Linked DNA regions of Homo sapiens: all the other regions are reported to be linked to region 1. Evidence: microRNA targets listed by miRTarBase, many of them from high-throughput screens and not tested one by one. Region 1 holds a microRNA gene; each other region holds the end of a gene's coding sequence.
Evidence for each region. Region 1 holds the annotated microRNA hsa-miR-6780a-5p (UUGGGAGGGAAGACAGCUGGAGA, at 4,083-4,105, opposite strand). A microRNA usually pairs through its seed, bases 2 to 8, with sites in the 3' UTR of a target mRNA and lowers its output. Matches are read on the target gene's strand: a 7mer-m8 pairs with bases 2 to 8, a 7mer-A1 pairs with bases 2 to 7 and ends in A, and an 8mer does both.

Region 2: miRTarBase lists KLC2 as a target of hsa-miR-6780a-5p. Seed matches in the 3' UTR shown: 8mer at 5,937-5,944, 7mer-m8 at 5,828-5,834 and 7mer-m8 at 5,781-5,787.
Region 3: the mRNA of GOLGA3 is a reported target of hsa-miR-6780a-5p. Seed matches in the 3' UTR shown: 7mer-m8 at 8,245-8,251, 8mer at 8,077-8,084 and 8mer at 5,768-5,775.

Annotation. Positions count from the first base shown.
Region 1 is chr17:42,704,042-42,714,183 of GRCh38, forward strand. It overlaps MIR6780A (microRNA 6780a), which reads right to left and starts at 4,110; the gene lies at 4,043-4,110. It overlaps EZH1 (enhancer of zeste 1 polycomb repressive complex 2 subunit), which reads right to left. Exons shown (of 21, transcript NM_001991.5): 11 at 9,168-9,348; 12 at 8,248-8,444; 13 at 5,805-5,896; 14 at 4,835-4,875; 15 at 3,917-4,042; 16 at 1,966-2,144; 17 at 1,047-1,142; 18 at 561-642. RefSeq lists an enhancer at 809-1,449.
Region 2 is chr11:66,263,296-66,273,437 of GRCh38, reverse strand. It overlaps KLC2 (kinesin light chain 2), which reads right to left. Exons shown (of 16, transcript NM_001318734.2): 6 at 9,691-9,778; 7 at 9,486-9,587; 8 at 9,219-9,392; 9 at 8,994-9,093; 10 at 8,366-8,415; 11 at 8,203-8,270; 12 at 7,675-7,783; 13 at 7,426-7,584; 14 at 7,221-7,345; 15 at 6,948-7,005; 16 at 5,578-6,565. The coding sequence ends at 6,482. RAB1B (RAB1B, member RAS oncogene family) reads right to left here and starts at 4,799. Exons shown (of 6, transcript NM_030981.3): 1 at 4,745-4,799; 2 at 1,569-1,641; 3 at 1,186-1,281; 4 at 978-1,073. The coding sequence starts at 4,758. It overlaps KLC2-AS2 (KLC2 antisense RNA 2), which reads left to right and starts at 5,027. Exons shown (of 3, transcript NR_186342.1): 1 at 5,027-5,139; 2 at 5,230-5,383; 3 at 5,607-5,889. LOC107984340 (a long non-coding RNA gene) reads left to right here. Exons shown (of 2, transcript XR_001748274.1): 2 at 846-1,281. It also overlaps KLC2-AS1. RefSeq lists enhancers at 353-1,552, 3,699-4,580, 4,741-5,070, 5,191-5,240, 5,541-5,590 and 1 more and silencers at 5,701-6,020, 6,041-6,090.
Region 3 is chr12:132,764,224-132,774,365 of GRCh38, forward strand. It overlaps GOLGA3 (golgin A3), which reads right to left. Exons shown (of 24, transcript NM_001389683.1): 23 at 9,934-10,097; 24 at 4,691-9,071. The coding sequence ends at 8,882. Among named protein-coding and RNA genes, the nearest start is that of ANKLE2, 7.5 kb to the left of the region's middle. RefSeq lists enhancers at 3,640-3,689, 3,800-3,849, 5,318-5,487, 7,579-7,778 and a cis regulatory region at 5,403.

The DNA of each region.
Region 1 (10,142 bases):
ATCTACTGGGCAGGGAGATTTCTCAGGTAAAGACGCTCAGCACTCCTATTACAAACAGAACCCAGAAATGGAGGTTCTTCCAAAGCAAGGGCACTGTGGCCTGTGGGATCCCCAAGTGTGATCCTGCCCCCTTGCTCTATGCATCTGCTGGAAGATTCGGAGCTGATCTAAACTTGGACTACAGCAAGGGCAATCTGGTAGAAAGATCACCTTGGGGCCAAGTGCGGTGGCTTACTCCTGTAATCCTAGCACTTTGGGAGGCCGAGGCGGGTGGATCACTTGAGGCCAGGAGTTCGATACCAGCCTGGCCAACATGGTGAAACCCAGTCTCTACTAAAAATACAAAAATATTAGCCGGGCATGGTGGCAGGTGCTTGTAGTCCCAGCTACTCGGGAGGCTGAGGCAGGAGAATCACTTGAACCCGGGAGGCAGAGGGTAGAGGCTACAGTGAGCCAAGATCGCACCATTGCACCCTAGCCTGGGCAACAGAGCAAGACTCCGTCTCAAAAAAAGAAAAAAAAAAAAGACCACCTTGGGATGAGACAAAGTGACTTCATACCATTATTGAGGTTGAAGAGGAAGCTGGACATGTATTTGTCATAGACCTTTCCGCGTCGATCAGCCTCATCCTGAGAGATGAGCTAGAGAGATAGACAAATAACAAATAGGAGTATCAGGCTGCCTGCTCAGGGCATGGTACCCTGCCCCCAGAAAGGGCTGGGTGGTATCTCACATGGGTGCTTACTGAGCATCATGATGAGAATCACAAGAGAGCAAGTTCAAGTTATGCTGTTCCAATTCCCACCCAGGCCAACCAGTTTTAAGGCTGAAAAGAGCCCCCCTCATCTCTTGTGTCTGGAGTTGCCAAAGAGTTGAACAGTGGTTTCAGTACTGCAAACGGTTCTGTGGGATCTCCCCAAGAGGCCACGTGAGAACACAGCTGAGTTATTTAGAGATTAATTCAAAGAAGCCTGGCCCACAGAAAATCAGAGTTTCTCATCAGTCTCCCCCGAGTAAGAATGTGGGCCAAAACTATAGCACTCACCTCACCACAGTATTCAGAAATGAATTCGTTCTTCTGCACAGACTCCTTTATGAAGGTGCCCCATCCGGCCACATCAGAGGGGGCCAGCAGCAGGTGCTGGGGAAGAGGGGGCCAAGTCTCAGACTACAGGGTGTGCATGAGTAGGGGGTGTGTGCTGGATGTGCACATGTGTGGTGGGGGTGGGGTGGAAAGAACCAGCAACTGTTAAGAGGATCTGAAAGCAGAAAAAGGTCTAACCCATTCTTTTCTGCTTGGGAGAGAAAAGAAAATGGGAGGTGGTGACGAACGGAAATAGGATATCTCTTCCTTTATCCATGGAGCCCTCCTGGGCCTTAGTCTATAGGAATTCACTGCAATGTGTGAGGTAAACATAGACATCACCAAAGGTGCATACACCTCGCAGCTCCTTTTTGTCTGGCCAGTTCAAGGAACCACTTTTCTTTCTCTTTTTGGAGATGGAATCTCACTCTGTCCCAGGCTGGAGTGCAGTGGTGCGATCTCGGCTTGCTGCAACCTCCACCTCCCAGGTTCAAGCGATTCTCCTACCTCAGCCTTCTGAGTAGCTGGGATTACAGGCATGCACCACCATGCCTGGCTAATTTTTATATTTTTAGTAGAGACAGGGTTTCACCATGTTGCCCAGGCTGGTCTCGAACTCTTGACCTCATGATCCGCTGGCCTCGGCCTCCCAAACTGCTGGGATTACAGGCATGAGCCACCACACCTGGCCAGGAACCATTTTTCTAAGCCCTACTGGGACTGAAGCCTTTATTAATTCAGTAAATATGTGTCTTTTAGGATTTATCAAGCACTTTCACATATAAAGCCTCAAAAGAACCAGTGGAAAGAGAATGCTTGGGACCGTTCCTTCCTTCCCCCTCCATTTTATGTGGTGTGGGGTCCTGAGGAAAGGCCTCACCTTCTTAAGTCCACGCTGGATGCTGCAGTTTTTACAGGAAACCACCTTGCAGTCCCAGTGCTCTGAGGCCCCACAGGTGAGACACAGGTCAGGGTCACATTCTCGCACTGCCAGATAGCAAGGACATTGCTTGGTATTGCACTGGGTCTTACAGCGACAGCCAGGGAAACGATTCTGACCTGGGAAGGGAAGACAGGTAAGTCTTAGAAGGGAAATAAGCTAATACTGGGGCTTGTGGTTGACTCAAGGGACAGCAAAGAAGTAAATTTTTTGTGTTCAAGGATGTTTGGCAAAATAAGAGGAAGCTCCCTTCCCAATAATCAAATACACAAGTTTTGTCCATAGAAAACTGAGTGCTTCCCAACATTCATGCCTTCGAGTCAAAAAAGCAGGTGTGGTCAAGCATGGTGGCTCATGCCTGTAATCCTAGCACTTTGGGAGGCCAAGGCAGGAGAATCACCTGAGCCCAGGAGTTCAAAACCAGGCTGGGCAACATAGGGAGATCCTGTCTCCACAAAAAAATTAAAAAAAAAAATAGCCATGTGTGGTGACACCTGCCTGTAGTCCCAGGCTTGATGGATGTAGGGGGATGAATGGCTTGAGCCAGGGAGGTTGAGGCTGCAGTGAGCCATAATTGTGCCACTTCTCTCCAGCCTGAGCAACAGAGCTGAGATCCTGTCTCAAAAAAATTTAAAAAATGAAAAAAAAAGCAGGTATACTAATAAGAAGTGTCCCCTAGAGATTCCCCAACAATCCTCTCCCTCCCACTGAGGTGGAGAGTACCCCAGAGAATATGAAATCAGTGTGTTTCACTGGTAAATTGTCACCATCAAAACAAGTATCATTTTGAGAACAGAATGCATCCGTTCTATGCCATCCTTCTCCACCCACTGCCCAACCCAGCGCAACCACTTCTCTGCTGCGGCTAAGATCACTATCTGCTATGGGTTAGGAGGTATTTCCTCCAGCAAAACCGCCTGGGCACCAAGTTCTGCAAGCTGTGGGGACTGCCATCAAACTGCTCAGCTTTGAGTTGGGAAGGGCATGGTGGGATAAGAAGTAAAAGATAAGTACCCGGATGTCTCTGCTGACATCCAGGCCCCTGTCTTCTACCTGATATTAAAACTCCAGCTATGAAATGAAAATAGACATACACAGAATCACAAACAAAAAATATCTGAATAAAAAATTTTTTAAAACAGTATTCAGAAAAGGGAAACTGGGGCTGTAACTTAAAAAAAAAAAAAAGAGTCCCACATTTCTTTTCTTTTTGAGACAGAGTCTTGCTCTGTTGCCCAGGCTGGAGTGCAGTGGCACAATCTTGGCTCACTGGCAGCCTCTGCCCTCTGGGTTCAAGCAGTTCTTGTGCCTCAGCCTCCCAAGTAGCTGGGACTACAAGCATGTACCACCATGTCTGGCTAATTTTTGTATTCTTAGTAGAGACGGGGTTCACCATGTTGGCCAGGCTGGTCTTGAGTCCTGACCTTAAGTGATCTGCCCGACTTGGCCTTCCAAGTGCTGGGATTATAGGCGTGAGCCACCACACCTGGCCTAATTTTTTTATTTTTAGTAGAGATGAGGTTTCGCCAAGTTGGCCACGCTGGTCTTGAACTCCTGACCTCAAGTGATCCGCCTACCCAAAGTGCTGGGATTACAGGCGTGAGTGACTGCGCCTGCTGCCCCCCACATTTCTTAATTCTCCCCTAGAAGACAAAGTTGGGAAAGTATCTGATTTCTGTGTAATTGCTGCTTTTAGAATCATGAACCTAAACGTTTTCCAGAAACGACTCTCCCAGATCTCATGCACTTATTTCATTTGTAGAATCCCTAAAACACAGCAAAGGGGATATCAGAAGGCCATAAGCAGTAAAGGGCACAGGAATGGGGCAAGCCTAGGGCACACTGGAGCCAACTGTTTTGGTAGACTATACAGAAAACGTAGCACACTTACAGTCTGGGTTGCACTGGCAGAACTTCTCACAGAAATTCTGAGTCATGATGCAGGGGCAGGTGCTGTCACAGGGGCGGTCTGGGTGGTCGCAGGGTTGGTAGTTGTACACTTGTGTGGAAGAGTTATCTAGGAAAGAAAACAGAGGAGGATGCTGCTGTGACCATACTCTCCAGCTGTCTTCCCTCCCAAGTGTCCAGCTGCCCTGATTCAGAGGAGGCTGGTCCTAACAATCTCCTTGGACACACATTTAGCACCTGAAGTGAGAAGACAGGGATGACCGTTGTTCATAAGCTGCAGTGGGGTGATCTGCTTTGTGGGGAGGGTGTGGAGATGGTCTGGGACAACAGGGAAGCTATTCTAAACATTAAATGAGGTCTGGAACCTAGCAAATGGCACACTAGAAAAGTCACATACTGGCCAGGCACAGTGGCTCACGCCTGTAATCCCAGCACTTTGCGAGGCCGAGGCAGGTGGATCATTTGAGGTCAGGAGTTCGAGACCAGCCTGGCCAACATGGTGAAACCCCGTCTCTACTAAAAATACAAAAATTAGCCAGGCATGGTGGTACATGCCTGTAATCCCAGCTACTTGGGAAGCTGAGGCAGGAGAATTGCTTGAACCCGGGAGGCGGAGGTTGCAGTGAGCCAAGATTGTGCCACTGCACTCCAGCCTGGGTGACAGAGCGAGGCTCCATCTCAAAAAAAAGAAAAATCACAGACCACAAGGCCCTTAATGTTACCTCCTAAGAGGTCTTCTCAGTTGCAGTGAGAGGCTCAGCTGTTCTCAGTTGCTGCAGAGAATTCTGCAATCTGCGGAAGTGGCACAGGGTCAACAAGTGCAGCTGGAGGTGGGGTAGGGTGATGACCACAGAGTGAGGCCTCCAGCTGAACTGCTGAAGAATGCCCTGGTAGAACTTACCTTTCTTCAGCTGAATCTTCCTGCAGTGTGCAGCCCACAATCTGAAAAAGACAGGAAGGACAGGTCTCAGTCACGGCCCTAGGGAGCTCTGCAAATGCAGGTAAATGACAACGTGACTTGCTCTGAGGGACTGTGTTTGATGACTGGGGAGTATCTTCCCAAACCCCTCAACAGGACGACTTTGGTACACAGAAGCTAGAGTCCATCCTAAATCCAGCTGGCCTGTGCTACAAGAGTTAAACTTAAACACAACCCCTCCCAAACAAGCAAATAACATAAAAGAACACAACACAGAAATAAAAGAAAGCCCAAGCCTATTGGTCTATTATAAAGCTATTGTTTCTCTCCAAATCTCTCCCTTTGTCTTTGTGGAGGTGGAGATATGGGGGAGTTTCAAGATGGGGAGGTGGGAAGGCCTTTCAGGAATCTTCTCTGAAAGAACTGAAAGGGAGGAGCCACAGGGATTTCCTTCTGTATCTAGAAGTGGTGTCAGCTCCTTCCTCTGATAGGTGATAGTCACTAGGGAACAGGGCCAGGGTGCAGAATTTTTTTAAAAACTTCCAACCTAAGTAAAGGCTATCATGTAACTCAGAAAAACAACACAAACCAAACAAATAAATAAACTCTGATCAGAGTTGAGAAATGGGTAAGGTGGTAACAAAACCAACAAGGAGAAATGGCTTCAGGGTGGAGCCATGAGGCCAGCTCATGTCCTATTGGCCAGAAGCTTAAATAGAAAAACAGACAGTTATGGTCCACAGCACTGGGGGACAAGAAGAGGGCTGATCTAAGGCACAGACCCTCAGGGAGCACTCAGGAGGCTGGCTCTCAGTCATGTGATGCCAAGCTGATGGGCTCACACAGCCTGTGCGGTTGCTAAAGAGGGAGGCAGATGGGAACTCCAAGGGGAGGTCAGAGCACAGGGAACAGCCTGGCTGTAAAACAAAACACTTTGTCCAACCCTTCTTGCCTGTGCTTTCTTTTCTTCTTCTGTGAGGGGTTCATGAGCTCATCTGTTGGCAGCTTCAGGATAAGTGATTCTTTGACTGCAAACTGAAAGACCTGGAAGAGAAATCCAACGGGCCTGTCACTCCTCGAGCAAGGGGGTCAGGTAAGTGGCCCAGCTGGGTGCTGGCCTTGGGAGGGTTCTGAGAAACTCAGGCAGCTGACCAAGCCTCTCATCAGTCAGGGAGAGACAGAGTGCCACTGGAACATTGGGTTACTGGCTCTGAAGTTCATTCCTAATTATTTATCCTGACTCAGGAAAGGAGAAATACTGAGCACAGTAATACCGCCCCTGGTCAGAAGCTGTCACCTACTACTCTTTCTACCAAGCCACGGGTAGAAGAGTGGGCTGACTGTGACCAACAGTATCTTCTTCTTTTTAGGAAGGGCAACGCTGTGCCTTGTGTAACTGAGTGTAAGGCAGGACAGGACAGGACAGGAATGGTTTCAGTGGGCTAAATATTAGCTCCCTCTGTCAGTATAAAGATACCGGAGCCTCAGCCATTTCAATAGGATGTGTTTTTTCTCTTAAAGCACTGGTTTTTAGTTTTTCCTTTTCTTTGTTGGGGCTATTGGCCCTTTGTGGGGGATCTTTGAAAACTGTAACTATTCTCAGGAAAATACAGACAAGAACATTCTTGCATACAAATCCATAGATGGTTACGTTGAGAACCTGTGATCAGGGAAATAGGTATGAGCTCCAAAATGAAAGCAAAGGGCACTTCAGCTCATGGTTCTGTTTTTGTTTGTTTTTTTTTTTTTTTTTTAAGAGAGAGGGTCTCATACTCTTGGCCAGGCTGGAGTGCAGTGGTGCCATCATAGCTCAATGTAGTATAGAACTCCTGGGCTCAAGCCATCTTCCCACCTCAGCCTCCTGAGTACTAGGACTACAGGTACGTGGCTTTTTTTTTTTTTTTTTTTTTGTAGAAATGGGGTCTCACTTTGTTGCCCACACTGGTCCTGAAATCCTGGCTTCAAGCGATCCTCCCACCATGGCTTCCCAAAGCACTGGAATTCTAGGTGTGAGCCACCTTGCCCAGTCCATGGTTCTATTAATTGTTCTCAGTACAGGAAGCATGAAGAAGAGGCCACAGAGTCTCCTCCAGAAGGTAGGAAGCCAAAGCATTGGGGTTCCTTTCCTGTTGGACATGCTGGCCCTGACAGCTGCCTCCTTGTCCCTGTTCTTCAGTCTGTCTTCTCACTGTGGTCTTTTCCTGTCTTTTCCTGGGCCAATCACTTGAGGTCAGGAGTTTGAGACCAGCCTGGCCAACATGGTGAAACCCCATCTCTACTAAAAAAAAATACAAAAATGGCCAGGCACATTGGCTCATGCCTGTAATCCCAGCACTTTGGGAGGCCGAGGCGGGTGGATCACCTGAGGTCAGGAGTTTGAGACCAGCCTGGCCAACATGGTGAAACCCCGTCTCTATTACAAATACAAAATTAGCCGGGCGTGGTGGTGCACACCTGTAATCCCAGCTACTTGGGAGGCTGTGGCAGAAGAATCACTTGAACCTGGGAGGCGGAGGCTGCAGTGAGCTGAGATCATGCCACTGCACTCCAGCCTGGGCAACAGACCGAGACTCCATCTCAAAAAAACAAAACAAAAAAAATTAGCTGGGTGTGGTGGTGGGCACCTGTAATCCCAGTTGCTTGGGAGGATGAGGCAGAAGAATCACTTGAACTTGGGAGGCGGAGGTTGCAGTGAACCAAGATTATGCCACTGCACCACTCCAGCCTGGGCAACAGAGCGAGATTCTGTCTCAAAAAAAAAAAAAAATTAGCTGGGCATACTGGCCTGCACCTGTAGTCCCTTGCTACTTGCTTGGCTGAGGGGAGAGGACTGCTTGAGCCCAGGAGGCGGAGGTTGCAGTGAGCTATGATCATGCCACTGCACTCCAGCCTGGGCGACACAGTGAAACCCTGTCTCAAAGACAAAATAAAGATAATCTAGTGATAGAAAATGTGGAGAATAAAATGACTGAAGAGGCTGGCGGAGTGGTGGAGGGAGCAGCAGCTGCAGCAGCTGCAGCAGCAGCAGCAGTGTGCTCATTAACAAGAGCCACAGAAAGACCTGGGAGTCCCTTCTGGGAAAGGGGTACACATTTAGAAAGGAGGCCAGAGCCAAAAAAAAGAAGCGAAAGAGTGTAGGACCCAGAAGCATTAAATAGAGTCCAGACAGAAATGAGCATTCAGCAAGGAGGAGGCGGGTCCCCAAACATCATTAGGCCTGGCACTTGCAGAAGGGCCATGTTTGGGAAACTCACAGAAGCACAGGCTCATCAGGGACTGAACTTAAGACAACTTCTCTCCAGACCCAGACACACAGCCTGGTAAGATGGCAAAGGGCTGGACAGAGCAATGCGTGAAAGGAGGGGCCCATTTGTTCTGCTGCTTCCAGATGGTACCTGCTTGCACGTCTTGGTCCCCAGAAGCCTGGCTATTGAACAGAAGTTGTTGAAGTAGGTGCCATGGAAGACTCGAAAAAGAGATTCTTCAGCCCCAGTCCATTCCACAGGCTCCGAGGGTGCTTCCACTACGCAGAGTTGAGGTGGGGCTGGACTAGCCTTCTGTTTTGTGGGAGTCTGACAGCGAGAGTTAGCCTCTGAGAAGGGAAGAAATAACAGAATCAGAAGAAGGTAGAATGCAGTTGTCATCAGTAGTTTGTCACAAACTCAGAAGTACTTCATTCTACTTTAAAAGGTAGAACAGTTAGGAATGAAAATATTCCCTATCTTTAGGCCAGGCATGGTGGCTCACGCCTGTAATCCCTGCATTTTGGGAGGCCGAGGTGGGTGGATTGCTTGAGCTCAGGAGTTCAAGACCAGCCTGGGCAACATGGCGAAACCCTGTCTCTACTAAAAATACAAAAATTAGCCAGGCAGGGTGGCTCACGCCTGTAATCCCAGCACTTTAGGACGCCGAGGCAGGCGGATCACCTGAGGTCAGAAGTTCAAGACCAGCCTGGCCAACATGGCGAAACCCCGTCTCTACTAAAAATATAAAAATTAGCCGGGCGTGGTGGCAGGCACCTGTAATCCCAGCTACTTGGGAGGCTGAGGCAGGAGAATCGCTTGAACCTGGGAGGTGGAGGTTGCAGTGAGCCAAGATAGCACCACTGCACTCCAGCCTGGGCAAAAAAGCGAGAGACTGTTTCAAAAAAAAAAAAAAAAAAAAAGAAAATATTCCCCATCTTTACTGTTTACAAAACTTGTAGAAAGAATTTATAATTTTTAAGAGGTAGTAAAGTTAAGTGTCAGGCAGTGATCCTGGGTTTACCAGAGTCCTTGCATGGAAAGAAAAAGTCTTCATTTTCTGTTCATCGTACCTGAAGAACTGGAGGCCCAGTCATTGCCTGTGTCCCTGTCACTGTCTCCTTCTTTAGTCTCAGCCACAGCAGAGGCTGAGGCATTGGAGCAGGAAGCACTGACTATGTGGTGCCTTCTCCGGCGACGACCAGAGCACTTGGAGCGGGGGTTGTGGAGCATGGCATACTCCTTTGCTCCTTCCTGCAGTGGACACATTACAGACAGGAAATAGGAACAGGCCCATCACCATATTGATCTCATCATCACAAACTTTCATCTTTACAACATCTGTCTACAATAATAGTGTCTTTTCTTTTTCTCTGTACCATATAATAAGTATGATCATATAACAATGAGAGCTGCTTAACAAAACTTACGTACTTTTTCACAAAAGAGTTGTCCTATAATGTTTTTTTGTTTGTTTGTTTTTTTGAGACAGGGTCTCTCTCTCTTGCCCAGGATGGAGTGCAGAGGCCTGCTCACTGCAGCCTCGAATTCCTGGGCTCAAGTGATTCCCTTGCCTCAGCCTCCCAAGTAGCTAGGACCACACGCACATGTCACCATGCCCAGCTAATGTCCTATAATCTTAAAAAAGATATAATCTATGCATCTGTGTCTTCAATTTTCCAGTGAGTTGTATCTAAAATTAACTTGCGTGTTACTTGTTTGGAATTTGAGAACACATTCTCCTATGGATGAAGAAATGAGATTCAGAGAGGGGAAGAAACTAGCTTGAGAGTATGCAGCTAATAGTTCCAGAGGGGTATAGGAATCAGGGCTCCTTGTCTCCCTAGGCCACTATTCTTTCCAGTCTACCACACTTTCTCTGTTTCCTTAATAAAATGTGTAATGCTTAATCTGTACAATCTTACTACTTAATTTTGAAACTTCCTCCCAAATCTGTGTATGAAACTCAGAAGAATATTGTTTCATTATTTTACAGCTATCACCCCCTTTTTTAAAAAATGAAATAATTATCACTCACCTAGATCATC
Region 2 (10,142 bases), not on the chromosome of region 1:
CAGTGTCCAAAGCCACGAGAGGTCAATGTGCTGAAATAAGATCACTGGATATATGGCAGTCAGGTGGGCCCTGGTAACTTGTCTGGGTGGTATGTAGCTTCCCCACAGCTCGTCCAGAGCTGGGGACATCATGAGTCCCTGGTGAGCTAAAGAGCCCGGCTGCTCCTCAGACAGGGACTCTTCCCGGCCCACGGCTGATTTAAGCTTCTCCTTATCTTCAGGGATTGGCCCTGTTAAGCAACAACATTTGGTAGAAAAAACAAAGCAGGTGGAATGAGCCATCCAGGCTTTCTGCCTCTGCCACCGGACTAGCTGAAGGACCCTCGGCAAGTCACCTCACCATCCTGAGCCCAGCTCCTTACCTGTGCGATGGGAACACAGACCTCTTCTGAGCATCAGAGGCAATCTGAGGGCTGGGCCAGGTTCTGTAAACTATAAGGTTTCATGGAACCATTTCCAGCCCTTGCTACCACCACTGCTAGTCACATGGGACTAACGCTGCTGCTGGAGGCAGAGCTTCTGGATCTCTGCTCACATTGGGCCCAGAGCTCAAGCTTCCCTGCTTCTTTGTCTAAGGCCCTCTAATTGTCCCCCTGCACTGTGTCTTCACACAGGAAGCCACAGGCCCAGCATAGCAGCCAACCGCCTGACTAAACTCCCACAACACAAAGGTGCCCAGAAGGTCTACAATAAGGTGGCAAGTTTGGCTTGGTGGGGAGGGAAGGTGTGAGGCCTTGTCCTGCCAGAACCTGCAGCAGGGCCTTCAGAGGATCCATTTCTGTGGCTGTTTCCCTCCTTGTGAAATGAGTCCAAGTACAGTCACCTATTTTTTTTCTTTTTCCTAGTTAGTTCCTGTAAGCAGACAAATAGTGTCCTTTCCAGGAAGCATCAGGAAAGAGAGGATGGAAGGAGGAAAAAGAAGAGTCAAAGACCTAAGGCTAAGGAGGCCAAGCTGAGGATGGCTAGTCCAGGAGTACCTGGTCAGTGACGTCATACACCACGATGATGCCATGAGCCCCCCGGTAGTAGCTGGAAGTGATGGTCCGGAACCGTTCCTGGCCCGCTGTGTCCCACTAGGAGACAGTAGGCAGAGGAGCAGGTCAGCTGAGGTCCAGAGTCCCAGAGTCCCTTCCCTCCCAAGGTGGATACCTCTGTACTGGGGATTTTGGGAAGAGCGACACTCACGATCTGAAGTTTGATAGTTTTGCCATCCAGCTCGATGGTTCGGATCTTGAAGTCCACCCCGATGGTGCTGATGTAGCTCTCTGTGTACGTGTCATCCTGAAAGTTCAGGGGCCAATGAAATCATGGGAGTTAATGAGGTGAGGCCCACTTGGAGAGCCTCCCTCCAGTTCCCTGCCCCAGCTGGGTCTCCGAACCACCAAGCCCCAATTCCCAGCACTCAGCTGGCCAGCCCTGTCTTGTTCAGGGCAGATGTGCTGGTGGCAGGTCTTACAGCTTCACCCCTGGTTCCCAGATCTTGCAACTACTGTGCTCTGTGTTGTCCCTTCTCCCCCCAGCTGCCAGTCAGGACCCCAGGTGGATGGTATGGGAGGCTTCTTACTCACAGCAAACCGCAGGAGCAGGCATGACTTGCCCACGCCTGAGTCGCCAATCAAAAGCAGCTTAAACAGGTAGTCACTGGAGAGAGAAGATGGGAAGGCGTGAAGGGAGGCAGGGAGCCCACCTACCATCATCCTGGAGTCACAATTACAGGATTCCCCCACCCCATGAGGCATCCCTTGGTTTATTTTTATTTTTTTTTTAGCAATAAGGTCTCACTCTGTCACCCAGGCTACAGTGCACTGAAGTGATCACGGCTCATTGCAGCCTCTACCTTGCGGGCTCAAAGTGATCTTCCCACCTCAGCTTCCTGCGTAGCTGGGACTTCAGGTGTCCACCACCACCACCACTTCTAGCTAATTTTTTTTTTTTTTTTTTTTTTTTTTGAGACTGAGTTTTGCTCTTGTTGCCCAGGCTGGAGTGCAATGGCGCGATCTTGGCTCACTGCAACCTCTGTCTGCCGGGTTCAAGCAATTCTCCTGCCTCGGCCTCCCGAGTAGCTGGGATTACAGGCACCTGCCACCATGCTTGTCTAAGTTTTGTATTTTTAGTAGAGACAGGGTTTCACCATGTTGGCCAGGCTGGTCTCGAACTCCTGACCTCAGGTGATCCACCTGCCTTGGCCTCCCAAAGTGCTGGGATTACAGGTGTGAGCCACCACACCCGGCCCCTGGCTAATCTTTTCATTTTTTGTAGAGATGGGGTCTCACTATGTTGCCCAGGCTGGTCTCAAACTCCCGGGTTCAATTGATTCACCTGCCTTGGCCTCTGAAAGTGCTGGGATTACAGGGGTGAGCCACTGCGCCTGGCCATCCCTTGGTTTAGAATACTATGGTGCTCACCAGATCTTCCCAACAGTCCCGGTCAGGGAGGGCTGATGCCTCCCTCCACAAACAGCTAGCCCAAAGGGCTCTCAGCTTGCTGAGTCTAAATTCTCACTTTATGGAGAAAGAAATCAAGACACGTGACCTGCCAAGGCAACAGAGCTGGGTATCCTAACCTGATTTCTGAAACTTCATGGTTTGGTCCAGTAGGAGCTATTTAGGGAATCCCCAGTACATGCCCTGCGTGTGCCTAGCTTGGCAGAGAAGGCCCCAGAAGTAGAAGCCAGGGCCCAGCCTAGAACCTATTAAGTTGAAAACCCACGTAGAGAGACTGATGGCTGGGTGCTGTGGCGTGTGCCTGTGGTTCCAGCTACTGGGGAGGCTGAAACAGGAGGAGGATCCTTGGAGCCTAGGAGTGTATGACCAGCCTGGGTGATGCAGCACAACCCCGTCTCTCTTTTCTTTTGTTTTTTCGAGACAGAGTCTCGCTCTCTCACCAGGCTGGAGTGCAGTGGCACGATCTCGGCTCACTGCAACGTCCGACTCCCTGGTTCAAGTGATTCTCCTGTCTCACCCTCCAGAGTGGCTGGGATTACAGGCATGCGCCACCATGACTAGCTAATTTTTGTATTTTTAGTAGAGACGGGATTTCACCATGTTGGCCAGGATGGTCTCGATCTCCTGACCTCGTGATCCACCCACCTCGGCCTCCCAAAGTCCTGGGATTACAGGCCTGAGCCACCGCACCCGGCTAACCCCATCTCTTTGGAGACAACAACAACAACAACAACAACAACAACAACAACAACAACAACAAAAACCTGTTATGAAGTCACCAGGAAGAGGTGGTCAAGTTGCAGTGAAAATTGCACTTAAGGCTGGGTGCAGTGACTGACACCTGTAATCCCAACACTTTGGAAGCCCGAGGCACGAGAATCATTTAAGCCCAGGAGTTTGAGATCAGGCTGGGAAACATATCGAGACCCTGTCTTTACAAAAAATTAAAAAATGTGCCAGGTGTGGTGGTGTGCCTCTGTATTCCCAGCTACTCAGGAGGACAAGGCAGGAGGACTGCTTCAGCCCAAGAGTTGGAGACTGCAGTGAGCCATCGTCACGCCACTGCACTCCAGCCTGGGTGACAGAGAGAGACCCTGTCTCAAAATAAAAAAAAAAAAAGGCAAAAGGTAATCACATTTAATATACTTGAGTTCCAACCTGTGGACGGACCCTGTGTGAAGTACTTTAAATGCATCATCTCATTTAATCTTCACAACAGTTCAATGAAGTCAGTTTTGTCATTGTCAACTAATGAGGAAACCAGAGGCCAGAGAAGGGAAGTGACTTGCCCTAACTTACACAGTTTATCGCTTTAAGACTCAAACCAGGTTTCTCAGACTCCAAAGTCCCTTCGAGAGCCTGCTGGTTCCCTTCTCTGTTCCCCTCCCAATCCAGCTCAGAGCTTCACCCTTCCCCAAGGAAATCTGAGACCTGGATGTGGAGTAGAAAAAGGAAGTGGCAGAAAAGGAAGAAGATAACTGATACTTGGGGAAAACTATTAGTCCTGGGCATGAGATGTGGGCCACCTACCCGCAGGGGGAGTGACCAAGAGTGAGGAGAGTTTGAGGACCAGAGAATCCCACAGGAAGGGGGAGAGCAAATTCCATATTCATCTAAACTTCACAGGCAGTGTGACAGCCAAGGGAAGGGGTGTGACGGTGGCGTTGGGGGCCTGAGCAAAAGCGAGGAGAGGGCGGGAAAGGACGGACCGGCGGGAGCGACAGGACAGCGCGACCCAGGCAAAGGGTAGGAGGCAGCCCCGGAAGAGAGGACCTGCGGGAGACGCGACCCAAGCGGCGCTTCGGGGCCTCCCGCGTAGTTGGCTAGCTTCTGGGCCGGCCCCAGGAGCCGGGCTTCAGGAGAAAGAGAAGGGTAGAGGGATTCACTGCCCGACCTAAAGGGCCCAAGCCTGAACCCGAGACCAGAAACTATCAAGACGGGCTCCAAAACTCCGGGACAGTTGTCAAGCAGCAGGTGGGGAAACTGAGGCCTGAAGTGACCGGGACTGCGGGGTCATCTGACCGATAAGGCCTGGTAGGACCGATGTCTCGAGCTCCAAGAGCTGCCCCTGGGGGTCGCCACGTCTGGGCCCCGGGTGCGAGGGCTCGGGGTTTTGAGCCGGGGTCCTGGGGCCCCTGGGGGGAGGGGCAGAACCCGGATGTGGGGGGGGGTCAGCGGAAGAGGGACCCGGATGTGGGGGCGCCGCACAGTCCTGACCCGGGCCAGACAACCCCGGTAAGCGTACAGCCCTGTATTCGGGATCGAGGCTGCGCTGGACGGCGCGGGCGGGGCTCACTCACTATTCGGGGTTCATGGCGGCGGCGGCGGCCCGCTCGGTCGCTCCCAGTCGACTCTGCTCCGCCTCCCGTTCCAAGATGGTGGCCGCTCCGCCCCAGAGGCCCCGCCCGCGACGCGCAGGCGCAAACGTCTTCTTCTCAGGCCTCGCCGCGCTGATTCCCGGAACTTGTAGTCTAAGACGTTCTCCAACTCAGCCCCGCTGCGCAGGCGTAGTCGGGGAGCCCGCGCCTCCGCGCCCACTCCCATCACTGCTGGCGCATTGCCTTCTGGGGCTTGTAGTTTGCACTCCGGACGCACTCAGGCTTGAGGACAGTGCTGGAAAGCCTGACCGCGACTCGGTGTTTAGAAAGCTCAATTTAGGGCTGGGCTTGGCACGTTTCACATCTGTCTGACGGAGGTAGTCATCCTTGCCCTCCCAATACCCACGTTGTGAACATTAAATGAGAATGTGGGTTCTAGTAAGACTAATAAAAGTACATTTGTCCAGGGTTCTTCGTGTACTGGGCAGTCCTAACTCGCAGCCGCGCGTCATCACCCGCATTTCATAGATGAAAAAACTGAGTCTCGGGAAACTCACTCAAGGTCAAAAACTTTGTGAGGAGCAGAGCTCATAAGAGCCCGCGGTCTCCAGAACCCCACAAGTGAGTGTTTTAGGGAAAGCCTGACTTGTGGGCCCCTCACGCAATTCCGGGGTGGGGCACAATATCTGGGCCCAGCTGCGCGGACAGCGGTTGAGCGAGACACACTGTCCCCCACTCACGCACGACCCTTCCCGGCTCCACCCCAGTCTAGAGACGCTGGGGGCCCCCGACCTCCGTCTCAAAACAAGCCCAGCTCAGATTTAAACCGTCTTTATTTCTACAGCAACATCTGAAAATATGAGAGCAGCCGCCTCACCCGCAACAGGGGGAGCCCCTCCTGCCACCAGGGGACCGTCGCCGCCCCTCGCGAGAAGCTGCAGGCGTGGGGGGAGGCGAGGCAGGATGGCTCGGTGGGCGGTGCCCGGGGCGGGGTCGGCCGTGCCTGGGCGGGGCCGGGTGGGAGGGGCAGTGCATAAGGCCGGGATGCGGGGCAGGGCCCGGCGGTGGGAGGACGGACTAAGGGGAGGTCCCCGTCCTGGGCCACGGGGCGATGGCGCGGGTAGGACGCATCCCTCAGAGGCCAGGAGGAGCGCGAGAAGGTCCCAGGACCCCCTTGGGAGGCGCCGCTCCCGAGAATGTAGAGCCTGGGAGATACCACCGCACGGAATGGGGGTGATTAAGGCCTGGGCGGTACCACTAGAAGAGGGACGAGGGGAGGCCCGGGTAGTACCGTGGACTGAAGGGAGGCGCGCGGCCAATAACTTATTTCTCTATATACAGAAGCAACGGCCGGGTTGAGTCGGGAGGGAGGGCGAGGGTGCCGAAGGGCCGGCGAGTGCTTAGTGTTCTTGGCTCTGGGGTCTGGGGAGGCCAGGCCACTGAGTCTATGGTGGAGACTCCAGCCGGCACCTCCTGCTGGCCCGAACCTAGGGAAGAGGGCCCTGCTGGAAGGAATAAATAAGGGATGGAGCTGGAGTGGGCAGGCCCAGCCTCCAGGGCTCAGGCTGAGATGACAAGGGAGAAGGTTACCCTGAGATTGAACAGAAAAGACAGGGGCTGTGGGAGAGACAGGCGGGACAAGCAGCAGGCCCATGCGCAGGGCTGGGGTGAGGGGGGTGTGCCAGGTGGGCGCTCTGGTGACTGGCTGCCCCTTCAGCATTAGCCCACCAGGGAGCTTCGTCGGGAGAGGTCCATGGAGCTGGAGCTGAGAGTGCGGCTGTCAGAGAGACCTGTGCCTCCAGGCTGTGGGCAGAGGGGGCAGGTGGCTCAGCCCTGTGCTGCTGCCAGTCTGTGCCTCCCTGGCCTGAAGGGGTCTGACCTGGCAGAGGCAGCCGGAATCCCTGAGCTGGGCAGAGGCAATGGCAGTTCTGACCCAAGGCCACACCCTGGTGCCCTGACACTCCCGTCCATCTCCACAGTGACGGTGTTAGCACTGGCCGTTTACACGTCCACCCCCAGGAGAGGCTGGGTTCCCCTCGTGTCTCCCCGTTGTCCAGCCCAAAGTAGGCCTGAGACAGAGCCAGGAACTGTTGCTGGATGAAGAGGCATGCTGGAGGGAAGCTTGGCAGCACGCATGCAGCCCCGGCCGCAGCTGCCCAGTGCCCAGACACCCGCCTGCCCCTACCTGGGTCGGCTCTTCCACGCTCTTGTTGAGGAAGTTGAGGGAACTGGCCCGCTTCATCCTGAGGGAAAAGGACAGCCTGGGATTTGCCCAAGGAGGAACTCACGGGAGATGGGGGCAGGGAGAAGGGTGGGGCTGGGGAGGGAACAGACTGGTGGGTGGTGGAGCCTGAGAGGGATGGGGAGGTTGCCTGGGGTCAGTGGGGCACACTCTGGGTCAGGAGCTCATCCGGGGTTGCTGGGTGGTTCTTGAGGCTCACCTTGGTGGGGGGCTCACCTGGGGTTAGGGGGCTCCTGGGGGGTGCCCCCCTGCAGCTTCTTTACCAGCATCTCACTGCTGCGCCTCAGGGCATCCCGGAGTTTCCCAAAGGAACCGCTGCGCCTCAAGGAGCCACTGCCATCCTGCAGGTGGACAGGCTTGCCTCTAGGCCCCGCTGGCCACCTAGGCTCCCAGCCCGACCCGGCCCAGGCCCCGGACTCACCCCATTCCACTCAGCTGTAGGTCCCACGTCCTCGAGGTCAGACTCAGACCGAGGCCCGGCACCCCCAGCCATGTCTCGGCTGCTGCGGCGGTCTCCCCGCCTGCCACTGCCATCTTTCAGCAGTTCTACCACCTTGGTCTGGCTTGCGGGGTCCAAACCCTGAGGGAGGGGCAGGGGCATCAGGCAGTGAATGGACCACACCCAGGGCCACACAGGTGTCTGCCCACCCCCTCCTGCATGGAGCCCCACCTGCTTGCGGTTACGGCTGGCACAGTCCTCTAGTGTGTGCGCGGCTTCCAGCTTGCCCTGGCGCCGGTATAGGGCCCCCAAGCTGCGCAGGGTGGTGTTGACTGTGGGGCTGTGGATGGGACAGTCTCAAACTCCATGTTCCCCCAGACCCAGGGCCCATCCTGGCACCCAGCCCACAGTGGGCCCTGAGGAAGCATGGACCTCCGGGGTAGCCAGAATCCATTCCTTCCCATGTCAAGCCCTGTGCTGGGCCCACCCAGCCTCTTCTGTCCTGGGGAAATCACCCCAGGGCTGGGGACCTGGCCCCAGGGCCCTCATGGGATGTTGTCACCAGGACCAAAAGCTGGGAGACCCAGAGCCAGAGAATTAGGCTGAGAATTGGGAGACAGAGCCTTCTTGGGACAGGTGACCTGTGAGTTGGGCCTTGCCAGATGAGCAGCAGAGGAGGGGTGTGTTGGGGGTGAGAGTATGGAATGTGGAGCCCGCCCTGCCGTGCCCTGCTCCCCAGCCCAGCCCCGCCCCACTCACCTGTCTACTTTACAGGCCTTGTACCAGCTGCCGTATTCCCCATAGGGGGCGCTGTCCCGGCGCTTATCCTGGAGGAAAGAATGGTCACAAGAAGTGAGAGCAGGCCCCCCTCTGCACATCCCAGCCTCCCCTGACAACCGCCCAGCCTGCCCCACAGAGCTACCTTGCTTTCCTCCCGCTCCTCTGCGTGCATCCAGATGGGCTTGTTGTCCCCTGGGGAGAGAAAGGGGACTGTCACCAGCCTACCATATAGGTCTCACCTGGTTGGGCTGGACACAGGACTGGGGTCAGGGGAGGGGAGACCACGGTTGGGCTTCGTTGAATGCATGAACAAGAGTAAGACCCAAAACACTGCTGACCCTCTTCTGGACAGAGATGAGCAGAACAGACCCTTGCACCTCAGGCCACAGCCCAAGACATGTGCTAGGCCTGAATGATGGGCCAGGCTCCGAGGGACTCAGGAGCAGATGACTGACCATCCGGGGCCAGAGGTGGTTTCCCAGAGTGGGAGACACTGGGGCAGGCCCTCAAGGTGAGCAAGAATCGCCAGTGGAGAAGGGGGATGCAAAGGCGTGTGAGGCCCTAGCAGGCCAAGGGGGCTGCGTGAGTTGGGTGTGTGCTCATGTGTGCAAACGTGAGCACAGGTGGCTGGGCACCATCTGAGGGTGAGGCTGGTGACCAGCCAGGCCAAAGCCTGAGGGCCTGCCCTGCTGAGGGATTTGTCCTGGGTGCTGATGGCAGAGTGGGCCTGGGATGGATGGGCTAGAGGCACCTGGTGACCACGCACTCACCATTGACAGAGCCAAACTCTTTCTCATGAGCGCGGGTGAGGATCTCCTTGTACAAGGTCTCCGCATCCTGGTACTTGCCCTGCTTCAGGTAGCAGGAAGCCTGGAAGCGGGAGACCCAGAGAGTGAGCGGGATGCATGCAGCCAAGCCTTTTTCTCTCCTTCTTCCCCAACCTCATCCCTGCCTCCCTCCTTCCCATCCTCCAGCTCCTCTCAGCCCCAAGGTACCAGGTTGTTCTTGGTCTTGGCCACATTGGGGTCATCGGGCCCGAGGCGTGTAGCATAGATCTCCAGTGCCCGCCGATAGTAATATTCCACCTCCTCAGCTTTGCCCTGGTTCTGGCACAGCAGGGCCAGGTTGCTGAGCTGCTTGGCCACATCTGGGTGAAACTTGCCCAGGACCTGGGATGGGAGAGGGAGCCAGGGGTTGGGCTCAGGGCTGCCCGGGCCCCTGCCTCCCAGACCCCCAGCCTGCCCAGCCCTGCCTGTTCCCACCTTCTCCCGGATCTCCAGTGCCCGCTTGCACAATGGCTCAGCCTCCTTGTACTTGCCCCTCTTGCCATACAGGACTGCCAGGTTGTTTAGTGTCGCAGCCACCTGGAGGTGGGAGAACGGAAGCTTCTTGACTCAGGCCCTGCAGGACTCTGGGACCTGCAGGGGATGGGGCACAGCCCCCACCTCCCACCCAACCCTCACTCACGGCTGGGTGGTCCTTGCCCAGTGTTTTCTCCCGGATGGCCAGAGCATCATTGAGCAGGTGGGCAGCCTCCTTGTACTTGTTCTGATCCCTGGGAGCAGGTAGGAGCATGGTCAGGGCTGTCCTCCAGCTCAAGGCCCTCCCCAATGGTCTGCAATCCCTGTGGTCACTCCTGTACTCACTGAGTGTGTATGACAGAGTGAGACCCAGAGTGTGGGGAGACCTGCTCAGCTCCTGCTCTCCAAGCTCCAAGGGCTGTAGGCAGTTTTCTCACAATTGGCTGGGGTGCGCAGTGCTGGGGTCCCACCGACTGCCTGGTGCCTAGCATTCCTGGGCGCCACATGGCTCTCCTGCTGCCCCTTTAGCGTGTCCTGCTCTCCAGGTCCCAGTGCCTTTGCTCATGCTGGCTTTTTGCCATGGGAACCTTTTCTAGCCCTCTTGTGTTTGGGCAAACT
Region 3 (10,142 bases), not on the chromosome of region 1:
CAGCGTCCACTCTCCATTAAGTTATTAAGAGCTTTTTCTTAGTTACAGAAGCTCTCAGTGGGCTGTGGAGACGCTGCCGTCTCCTGAACACATCCAGCGACCACATGACTAAGCAAAGGCAGCGGAGAGTGGACGGACGGTGATGGACGCGGCCACGGAGCCCAAGCGCCCACAATGCGCATTCCTGTCTTTTCTCTCCCCGCTCACCTCAGAGCGGGACGGAAGGTGGGACTGGGAGAGCTGTTCTCGGGCAGGTGGACGCTGTGGATTAGCGGAGAGGGAAGGCACTTTCGTTCTCGGCACCGTGAGGCTGTCCTGGTCAATCCTGTTTTCATGCTTGAGGGTCTCTGGTGCAGCAGCTCCACCAGCCTTGACACCAGGACTTCTGTGGAATCCAGGTAAGCAGCCAGGGTCCTGATAGGGCCATGCCCTCACCCCCATGTAATGCATCCACTCCCAGTTAAATGAGAAAGGAACAATCACAGGAAAACATGGAGAACAACTCCACTGTTCAGAAGCCAACCCTATATTAGCTACTGTTTAGGTAGAAATGAAAAACTTTGAGACGTAAACTCCTGCAGGTAGAAGTAGATTTCCGGTGAATGAACAAAATGAAGCTTATTAGAATCAATGGCCTCTTCTGAGAGCCGTTCTGAATTTTTTTTTTTTTGAGACGGAGTCTTGCTATGTCGCCCAGGCTGGAGTGCAGTGGCGCGATCTCGGCTCACTGCAAGCTCCGCCTTCCGGGTTCACGCCATTCTCCTGCCTCAGCCTCCCCAGTAGCTGGGACTACAGGCGCCCGCCACCACGCCCGGCTAATTTTTTGTATTTTTAGTAGAGACGGGGTTTCACCGCGTTAGCCAGGATGGTCTTGATCTCCTGACCTCATGATCCGCCCACCTCGGCCTCCCAAAGTGCTGGGATTACAGTCGTGAGCCACTGCGCCCAGCCCTGATTTTATTCCTAGTTGTAATTTAACTTCTACTTCATTTCTGATCCGAGATCACAAAGGGGCCATGTGAGCCCCAGGGACTGAGCGGAAGCTGAAGTCTCACAGCTCGAGGATTTACTCCCAACGTGCTGGGAAAAGCCCTAGATGAGCAGGGAGTAGCTAATTTCTTTTCTTCCCCTTCTTTTTCAATATTAATTGGATTTCCTTAAAGGCCGTGTGTCTATTAAGTTTGTTATCAATGGCTATTTAGCACTTGTAGAAACCCAGCCGTATGTTACATACAGTAGGGTCTAGTCAGGAAAACAGCCCAGGCCAAGTGGTTCAGCAGAGGAAATGCAGGGGCAGGGACGGCAACCGCAGGACGCCAGAGGCCCTCAGGTGGAGATAACGGCCCTGAGTGGAAACGTACAGGCTCCAGAACCTGGTGGGACCTGGGCTGATGCAGGGGAATGAGGGGTTTCAGGGGAGCTACGGCCGTGACCATCAGACGCCCAGCTGCAGGGACAGGCAGGTGGCGGGGGGGGGGGGTCTGTTTTCTGGGTGAAGATGGGGGCATTTTTGAAAGCATTGGGAAGATACACTTGACGTATCTATCCAGTCTCCAGAAATGCACGTTTAACGCTCAGAAGGAAATCTTGCAACAATTGAAGTGCTGTGGGAGGCTCCGCGAGCAGAGACAAGATTGTCCTTCTCTGGGTTTCAGGGCATTTAGACATGACACTCAAAAATATTTCACTGTGGGCCGGGCGCGGTGGCTCATGCCTGTAATCCTAGCACTTTGGGAGGCAGAGGCAGGTGAATCACCTGAGGTCAGGGGTTCAAGACCAGCCTGAACAAAATGGTGAAACCCCATCTCTACTGAAAATACAAAAATTAGCCGGGCGTGGTGGCGGGAGCCTGTAAGCCCAGCTACTCTGGAGGCTGAGGCAGGAGAGTCACTTGAACCTGGCAGGCAGAGGTTGCAGTGAGCTGAGATCGAGACACTGCACTCCAGCCTGGGCAACAAGAGTGAAACTCCGTCTCAAAATATATCTATTTCATGTGAAGGTGAAATCCAACCCCGACGATGTGTAGAAAAGCCCAGCAATCTCCCGCAAATCCCTGAGCCGATGGCCGCGGAGATGGGTGTCCTGGTGGTGCTCCCAGAGCTGCCTCCCCAGGTGCCACCAGGACATGCTGCCTTTGGGGCTAGAGGTTCCCACCTCATCAGTAACGAGGGCATCGCCAGCCCTCAGCTGCCTTGGGCGCCCACAGTCGGCTTTCACGCCTCCCAGAGGTTCCGCCACCTTCAGCCCTCACTTCAGATGGAGTCAGAACTTAGAGATGTGGACACTGTGAAGGTCACCGGCAGCCAGTGGTGGAGCCGGGGGAAGGGTGTAGGACGCCCCCACACACAGGTGAAGAGGGCACTGCCAGGGGGAGGGCTGTAGGACACCCCCACACAGAGGTGAAGAGGGCACTGCCAGGAGGAGGGCTGTAGGACGCCCCCACACACAGGCGAGCAGAGGGCGTTGCAAACATGGGCAGAGGCGGCCCAGCAGCAGTTTAACATTGCCCTGTGTCCAGGAGAAAGGCCACTGCCCAAGTATGCTCTTTATCGCAACCTGCAACATTCCCCCTCAGACGGAAGCTTGTGTAGAGGCCGCCAAGTTCCAACAAATGCTCCCGACTGTAGACGCCACCAAGTGCTGGGACTTGCTCTCGTCATCTGGGAAAGGCTTGGGGACGCTGCCAGCAACTGTCATGTTTATCCATCAAGCTAGACGGCGGAAGTGCAGTCGTCTTAGTTTCCCCCATTATCTGCTTCCTGCTTTTTTTTTTTATCTCGAGTCTCAACTTTGTTGCCCAGGCTGGAGTGCAACGGCACGAACTCCACTCACTGCAGCCTCCACCTCCCGGCTTCAACAATTCTCCTGCCTCAGCTTCCTGAGTAGCTGGGATTACAGGCGCCCATCACCACGCCCGGCTAATTTTTGTATTTTTAGTAGAGATGGGGTTTCACCATGTTAGCCAGGCGGGTTTCAAATTCCTGATCTTGAGTGATTCACCCGCCTCAGCCTCCCAAAGCGCTGGGATTACAGGCATGAGCCACTGTGCCTGGCCTGCTTCCTAATACTACCCGAGGTCTCAGATTTCTGAGTGACCTGGTAATTTTTAAATCCTGAGTCTCCTTCATGCCTGTAATCCCAGCACTTTGGGAGGCCGAGGCGGGCGGATCATGAGGTCAGGAGATCGAGACCATCCGGGCCGACACGGTGAAACCCCGTCTCTACTAAAATACAAAAAGAAATTAGCCGGGCGTGGTGGCGGGAGCCTGTAGTCCCAGCTACTCAGGAGGCTGAGGCAGGAGAATGGCGTGAACCTGGGAGGCGTAGCTTGCAGTGAGCCGAGATCGCGCCGCCGCACACCAGCCTGGGCCACAGAGTGAGACTCCGTCTCCAAAAAAAAAAAAAAAAAAAAATCCTGAGCCTCCCATCAGCGATACGTCCTCTGTCCTACACTCAACCCAAATTCCTGACAGTACCTGCCGCCACTCTAAGCCAGGAAGAAGTGACCCATTCATCTCTGCCAAAACCACTCCTGACACCCACTGCTGAGCTCTGTAGCAGGACGCAGCGTGGAGCTTCGAGCTGCTGAGACAGACACAGCTTAAAATATACCTGTCAGTGCAGTGCCTGCAAACACGTAGCAACTCCATGGAGAAAAGGAAAAAGTTCAGATACATACATGTCCCCTTAAGGGTTCTATAGACCAAAAAAAATTATATCCTTAATATTTCAGAAAGTTAAGGCCACAGAAGGTGGTCAGGGAATTTTTACTCTGTGTAGCAATTCTCTGGGTACAGAAGCTGGTAACGCTCACAGGAAGAAGTGCATTAATCCCACAGGGCCAAGCCCAGCGACCACCACTTCCTGCCCCTTTTCTGTACTTTTTAAACCATGGTGGCCTCTAATAACGTCTAACTGAAAACTCTGTACCTGGTTAACTCTTTTTTTTTTTAGACGGAGTCATGCTCTGTCACCCAGGCTGGAGTGCAGTGGTGTGATCTCGGCTCACTGCAACCTCTGCCCGATCAAGCGATTCTTCTGCCTCAGCCTCCTGACAAGTGGGGATTACAGGCGCCCGCCACCACGCCCTGGCTAATTTTTTGTTTAGTAGAGGTGGAGTTTCACCATGTTGGCCGGGCTGGTCTTGAACCCCTGACCTCAGGTGACCACCCCCTCCCAGCCTCCCAAAGTGCTGGGATTACAGGCGTGAGCCACCACACCCAGCTTACGCCTGGTTAACTCTTAATGACCAAAATCAAAGTATGGATGAAAAAGACGAGAATCTGGGAAGTCACATTGCTGAGGTCTGAGAGTCATGACTCCACTGTCACCGGGGAGGCCCAGCAGAGGGCAGCACCTGGATGATGAGACCCAGTTCAGGAGGCGCAGCACAGAGCGGTCACCATCCTTCCCCGGTTCACCGGGAAGCTTGCTCCCCCTCCTTCTGTATTCCTGGCAAATGACAACGGGCAAAGCGAAGCGTGGGCCAAGGACGGAGGAGGCGGTGCCGCGCGTCTGCCGTGGTCACAAGCCACAGAAGTTTGCTTCACTCCTGCCAGAAACCGGCAGGACAGTAGAATTCTCTTTTAAAGCACGTGTTGAACAGAGTGTGTAATAACATGAGATTAAAAAGTTACTGCCAAACGACAAAATATAACTATTAAAATGAAGCTTCCAATGAATATGAAAATCTTTACCAAAAAATAGTTTATTGCACAAAATTTAAGGAATTCCCAAGCACACTTACATTTGTAAAAAATCAACGTGCTTTTTAAAGTTACACTTTGTCAGACACGGTGACCCCTTTCCCAAGAACAGCCACAACTTGAGGACTCTCTTTTGTGAGGAAATTTTTAATAAAAACAAGTAACTCAAAAGCACTGAATTTTCCAGACCCTCTAACACATTTCCCTCCGGATCCTGTGAGAGCCTGAGATCACTTATGACGAGATTCACCTGGACCTTCCGGTCAGTGAGCTCAGAACACCTCACACCACAGCGTCACTCAACTCAAGTCCCTCCTCACATCAGAGGGCTCCTCGAAGGGAGGCCCCAGGACGGTTCTCTCAGATTTGCTGGTCCCTCCCCTCCTAGAATCTTCACGTACAACATTCTGTTTTTGTTTTTAAAGACCTCAGGGAACTAGAACTCGGTTGTGGGAACCCTGCACCAAGGAGAGTTGAGGGCCAGCTCCTTAGCGCAGCACAGCACGGACTGTGTTCTGGTGGGCAGGGCCCCTGCTGGACCCACCCGAGGAGAGTCCATTTCACATCCTATCAGAAACACTGCCTGATCCATATTGCAGAGAGTGGGAACGGGTGTGAGTCCGTAAGACCCGTAGCATCAATCTCACATATACCACGGAAAAACACATGAAAACCAAGTTACGTTGTTTTTGGAACATCAGAAAAACAAGTAGTGACATCGTGAAGTGCCCTAGCCTGTTGTGACACACGGTGTGGGGATGAACACGCCGCCCTAGCCCGTGACACACGGCGTGGGGATGAACACGCCACATAATGCACTGGTGACCCTGTTTTGTAAGCAGTACTCCCAACTTCACTGCCTTTTCCGTGAGGATATTCCATCATTCCCACTTCTGCCCACAAGAACAAAATAATTCAAACTTTATGCACTGAAGTAACTCTGGAAGGTAGAAGTGCCGGGAGAGTCCCTTGGAGATAAAAAAACCTCAACAATAAAAAAAAGCAATTTAAAAATCCAACTGCAGCCGGGGGCGGTGGTTCACGCCTATAATTCCAGCACTTTGGGAGGCTGAGGCTCAGGATCACCTGAGGTCAAGAGTTCAAGACCAGCCTGGCCAACATGGTGGAACTCCACCCCTCTAAAAATACAAAAATTAGGCTGGTGTGGTGGCGGGCACCTGTAATCCCAGCTACTGGGGAGAATGAGGCAGGAGAATCGCTTGAACCCAGATGGCGGAGCTTGCAGTGAGCAGAGATCACGCCACTGCACTCCAGCCTGGGCGACAGAGCGAGACTCTGTCTCAAAAAAAAAAAAAAAAAATTCCAACTTCCTCTTTTAGGCGTCTTCTTAAGGAAGGAAGTGTCCGCGTGAACACGAGAGGCCTCAGATCCAGAAGCACAAGCCGTGCATGAAAACACCAAAAGACTCACTGCAGGGAGCAAAGGCAGCCAGGCCCTGCCAAACCAGAGGGGGCCCTGGCACCGGCGACCACAGAGCGCTGGGGGAGGCATCGCACCCAAGGGCACACACGCAGGAAAACCGGGGTGAGAACATAGAGCTACTTTTCCTTCGGTATTTTCAGAATTAGTCTGTCCTAAGAGAAAAAAAAATACATGGTGAACATCACTCACTTGAGGACTTCCCATAAGCAAGGAGAAGTCGCTCCCCACTGAATGTGTGATTTCTCGATTTTAGATTTTTTAAAATCATTTATTTATTTTTGAGACGGAGTCTCGCTCTGTTGCCCAGGCTGGAGGGCAGTGGCGCGATCTCGGCTCACTGCAAGCTCCGCCTCCTGGGTTCAAGTGATTCTCCTGCCTCAGCCTCCCAAGTAGCTGGGATTATAGGTGCGCACTACGACACCCGGCTAATTTTTGTATGTTTAGTAAAGACGGGGTTTTGCCATGTTGGCCAGGATGGTCTGGACCTCTTGACCTCAGGTGATCCACCCGCCTCGGCCTCCCAAAGTGCTGGGATTACAGGCATGAGCCACCGCGCCCGGCCCGATTTCTTGATTTTAAAATTAAAACAAAGGGGTAGTACAGCCAAAATAAATAAGAACGTAAATTGCCGTATTTTTTTTTCTAATGGTACAAGAACAATTTAGTAAATAACATCTTCAACTTAAGATAAAAAGTAGGATATATTTATAATGAAATTTTCAAGTATTATTTCAAAATTAACCCTGTACAAATGATATATTTTGGAAATTCCAATATTTGCTAGAGAATATTTTTTAAATACCAAACATCTTTGTGGTTAATGCTACCTTAACCTTACCAATTAACCTTCTAAAAGTATATTACAACAGAACACAAATAGCTTAAAACACACCATACTGTTTTCTCCACAAAACAGACACCAGACACCGACATGAGCACATCTGGCCTGGCCAGTGACTCAGAACCTCATTTCAGACCAGTACATCTGCAGAGGAGGCCACGCGGACCCATTCTCTCTCTCCTAACTCATATAATAAATATTATTTTAGATTTTCTTAGCAAACTAGGGGACAACTTACAGACCCCACCTCTCCCAGTCAGCCAGTGTCTGCAGGGTTTCAGGATTTGGGGTAGGAAACAGAAGATCTCACACATGTCGTGCTGATTTTAAATAAGGCATCTGTCTCTGAGACACCTGGGAGAGCACAGCCACCTTCCTCACGGTGCCTGCCTGTCTCTTCCGGAAGTCGCCTCTGCTTGCCACATGATGCTGGTGTAACCACAAAAGATCCAGGACTTCTCGATGACTGCAGAAGTACAGGTGCTCCTACACACGAGTACAGGCGCTCCCACAGACAATGGTAAAGATTTTCACTTGGGGAACAGGAGTGTGAGGTTTGTTACCGCCTGCGACCTACACCTGGCTGACTCCAGGGGAAACCGCGGGAGTCGCTGCAGGGAGCCCCTGGTCTGCTCTCCTCCTCCTCCTCCACCGGCCTCTCCCTGTGCCCCCCCAAAGGTCAGATCAGATATGGGGCCTCAGTGTCCTTGTGCCTCCTGATGGCCGTCAGGCCTGACCAAGGGTCCAAGCTGCCCCTTCCCAGTGGCCAGCCACGGTGGAATCACACAGGGCCAGTGGCCTGAGAGGAAGAGACCAGCAGGAAGGAAAGATCCTCAGCAACAAAGTAAAACCAGAACAACAGAGGACCTTTCTGTGTAAGAATATTTGGCTTTAGAAGGTAAATAAAATAATTATATTTCTTAGAATTTTCTGACTATCCCTAAATCCTGCAGGTAAATTATTCCCAACAAATTTTCAAAAGGCAATCAATAATAAGTAGGTTCTTCTTCAATAACATGAGCATATGCTTCTTAAAGACTGGGTGACAGGCCGGGCGCAGGGGCTCACGCCTGTAATCCCAGCACTTTGGGAGGCTGAGATGGGCAGATCACTTGAGGTCAGGAGATCGAGACCATCCTGGCCAACATGGTGAAACCCCATTGCTACTAAAAATACAAACATTAGCCTGGCATAGTGGCGCACGCCTGTAATCCCAGCTACTCGAGAGGCTGAGGCAGGAGAATCGCATGAACCTGGGAGGCGGAGCTTGCAGTGAGCGGAGAGTGTGCCACTGCACTCCAGCCTGGGCAACAAAGCGAGACTCTGTCTCAAAAAAAAAAAAAAAAAAAAAACAAAGATTGGATTATGATATTCAGTATCTATGTACACATCCTATGGTGGGATGGCTATCCAAAAAAACAAGTAAAAAGCCAAAGGTACAGATAAAATTTCATTTCTGCGGAAAAGTAAAGCTCTTACTGAATGGAACAGGGAAGTGAGAAACTGCAGCCGGCCTGGCCAGGCGCGGTGCCGCAGACCCTGTCACACAGCTGCTCCCAGTTACGCAGCCTCTCCCTGTCACCCGCAGAGAGCAGCATCGGTGGCCGCTCAGAAGCCACGACCTACAAGTAACCCTTCAGACACGTTCAAAGCTCCTCGCCGAGAGCCTATCAGGCTTTTAAGAGTTGGTCATTCCATGTGAAAAGCTAATTGTGATCTTCGAATGTTTTTCTAGTCCTTGGCTCTCATTCTGCTATATATTTTACTTCTTGTTAAAGGCAAAACAAAACTTAAATTTCATGTCTTAGAAAAACATCGACCACACAATCAAATAAATAACATTGATAAGAGCCTTCTGGGGCAGCGGCGCACGGAGGCGAGTCCACAGCAGTCACTCTCCCGGCCCTTCTTTGGAAGCCCTGCTCTGACTGTGTCTCTGTGGGTCGCCGCGTGGGCCGGCGTGACCCCCCGGGGGCACAGGGCTGGCAGTGGCTGGCTCCAGCGGCGTCCACGAGGACAGAGACTCGTGCACCGTCAGGGCGTGCTCCTCCATCTGGCGCTGCAGGCTGTCCATCTCCTGCCTGGGACAGAAGAAGGAGGAAGAAGGCCCAGATCACACAAGTGCCAGGCAGAACGCGCCACCTGTGGACAGCGTCACTCGCTAGCACCTGAGTGGACCGGGGCGCCTTCGGGGATCCGCAAACCAACTGAGACCACAGAAGCTCAGCTGTTCTCAGCACCGTTCTCTACACTGTGCAGAGGACACAGGCTCAAGGACCAGTCCTGACCAGGCGGCAGGGTGGAAGCTGTCACTGAGGCCTGGCACACACGACTTCCACTCCGTTACCTGCCCTCGGGGCGCCGCCTGGCTCCGCCCTACACACTTCGCTCAGCCTCAGGCTGCCAGGTGCACCATGTGTGGCCTTCCAGCTTCTCAGGGCCTATCAGGGTAGTTTAACTCCAGGCAGTTTCCACCTATGAGTTCACAGGCTGTGTGTGCGAGTTCCCCCACCTTTATATAAACCTCAGAGGCTGTGCGAGTCCCCCTCCCACTTTATATAAACCGCAGAGGCTGTGTGAGTCCCCCTCCCCCTTTATATAAACCTCAGAGGCTGTGCGAGTCCCCCTCCCCCTTTATATAAACCGCAGAGGCTGTGAGTCCCTCCCCCTTTATATAAACCACAGAGGCTGTGCGAGTCCCCCTCCCCCTTTATATAAACCTCAGAGGCTGAGTCCTTCCCCCTTTATATAAACCTCAAAGGCTGTGTGTGCAAGTCCCTCCCTTATATAAACCTCAGAGGCTATGTATGCGAGTCCCCCACCCTTATATAAACCTGCTGAAACTCTGCTGGGCACTCAGTACTGGCACCAGGAGTGCCCTCCCAGGTAAGAGGGCATTAATCTTTAAGACTAGCTGAAGTGCAGCACGGAATACGGTCGTACTTGAGCTGCTGGAGGCAGCTGTTCAGGTTCTTGAGGGGCTCCTTGCTCACGGCGGGCGGTGGTCTCAGCAGCTCCTCCAGCAGCGAGGCGGGAACTGGGCAGTCCGGGATCTTGATGGGCGTGGCAGGGTTGGAAGAGCTGGCCTCGCCTTTCGGCTCCTTTCTCTGTTTTTAAAAGCACATGATCAGCTTTCCCACCGTCCCCTCCCT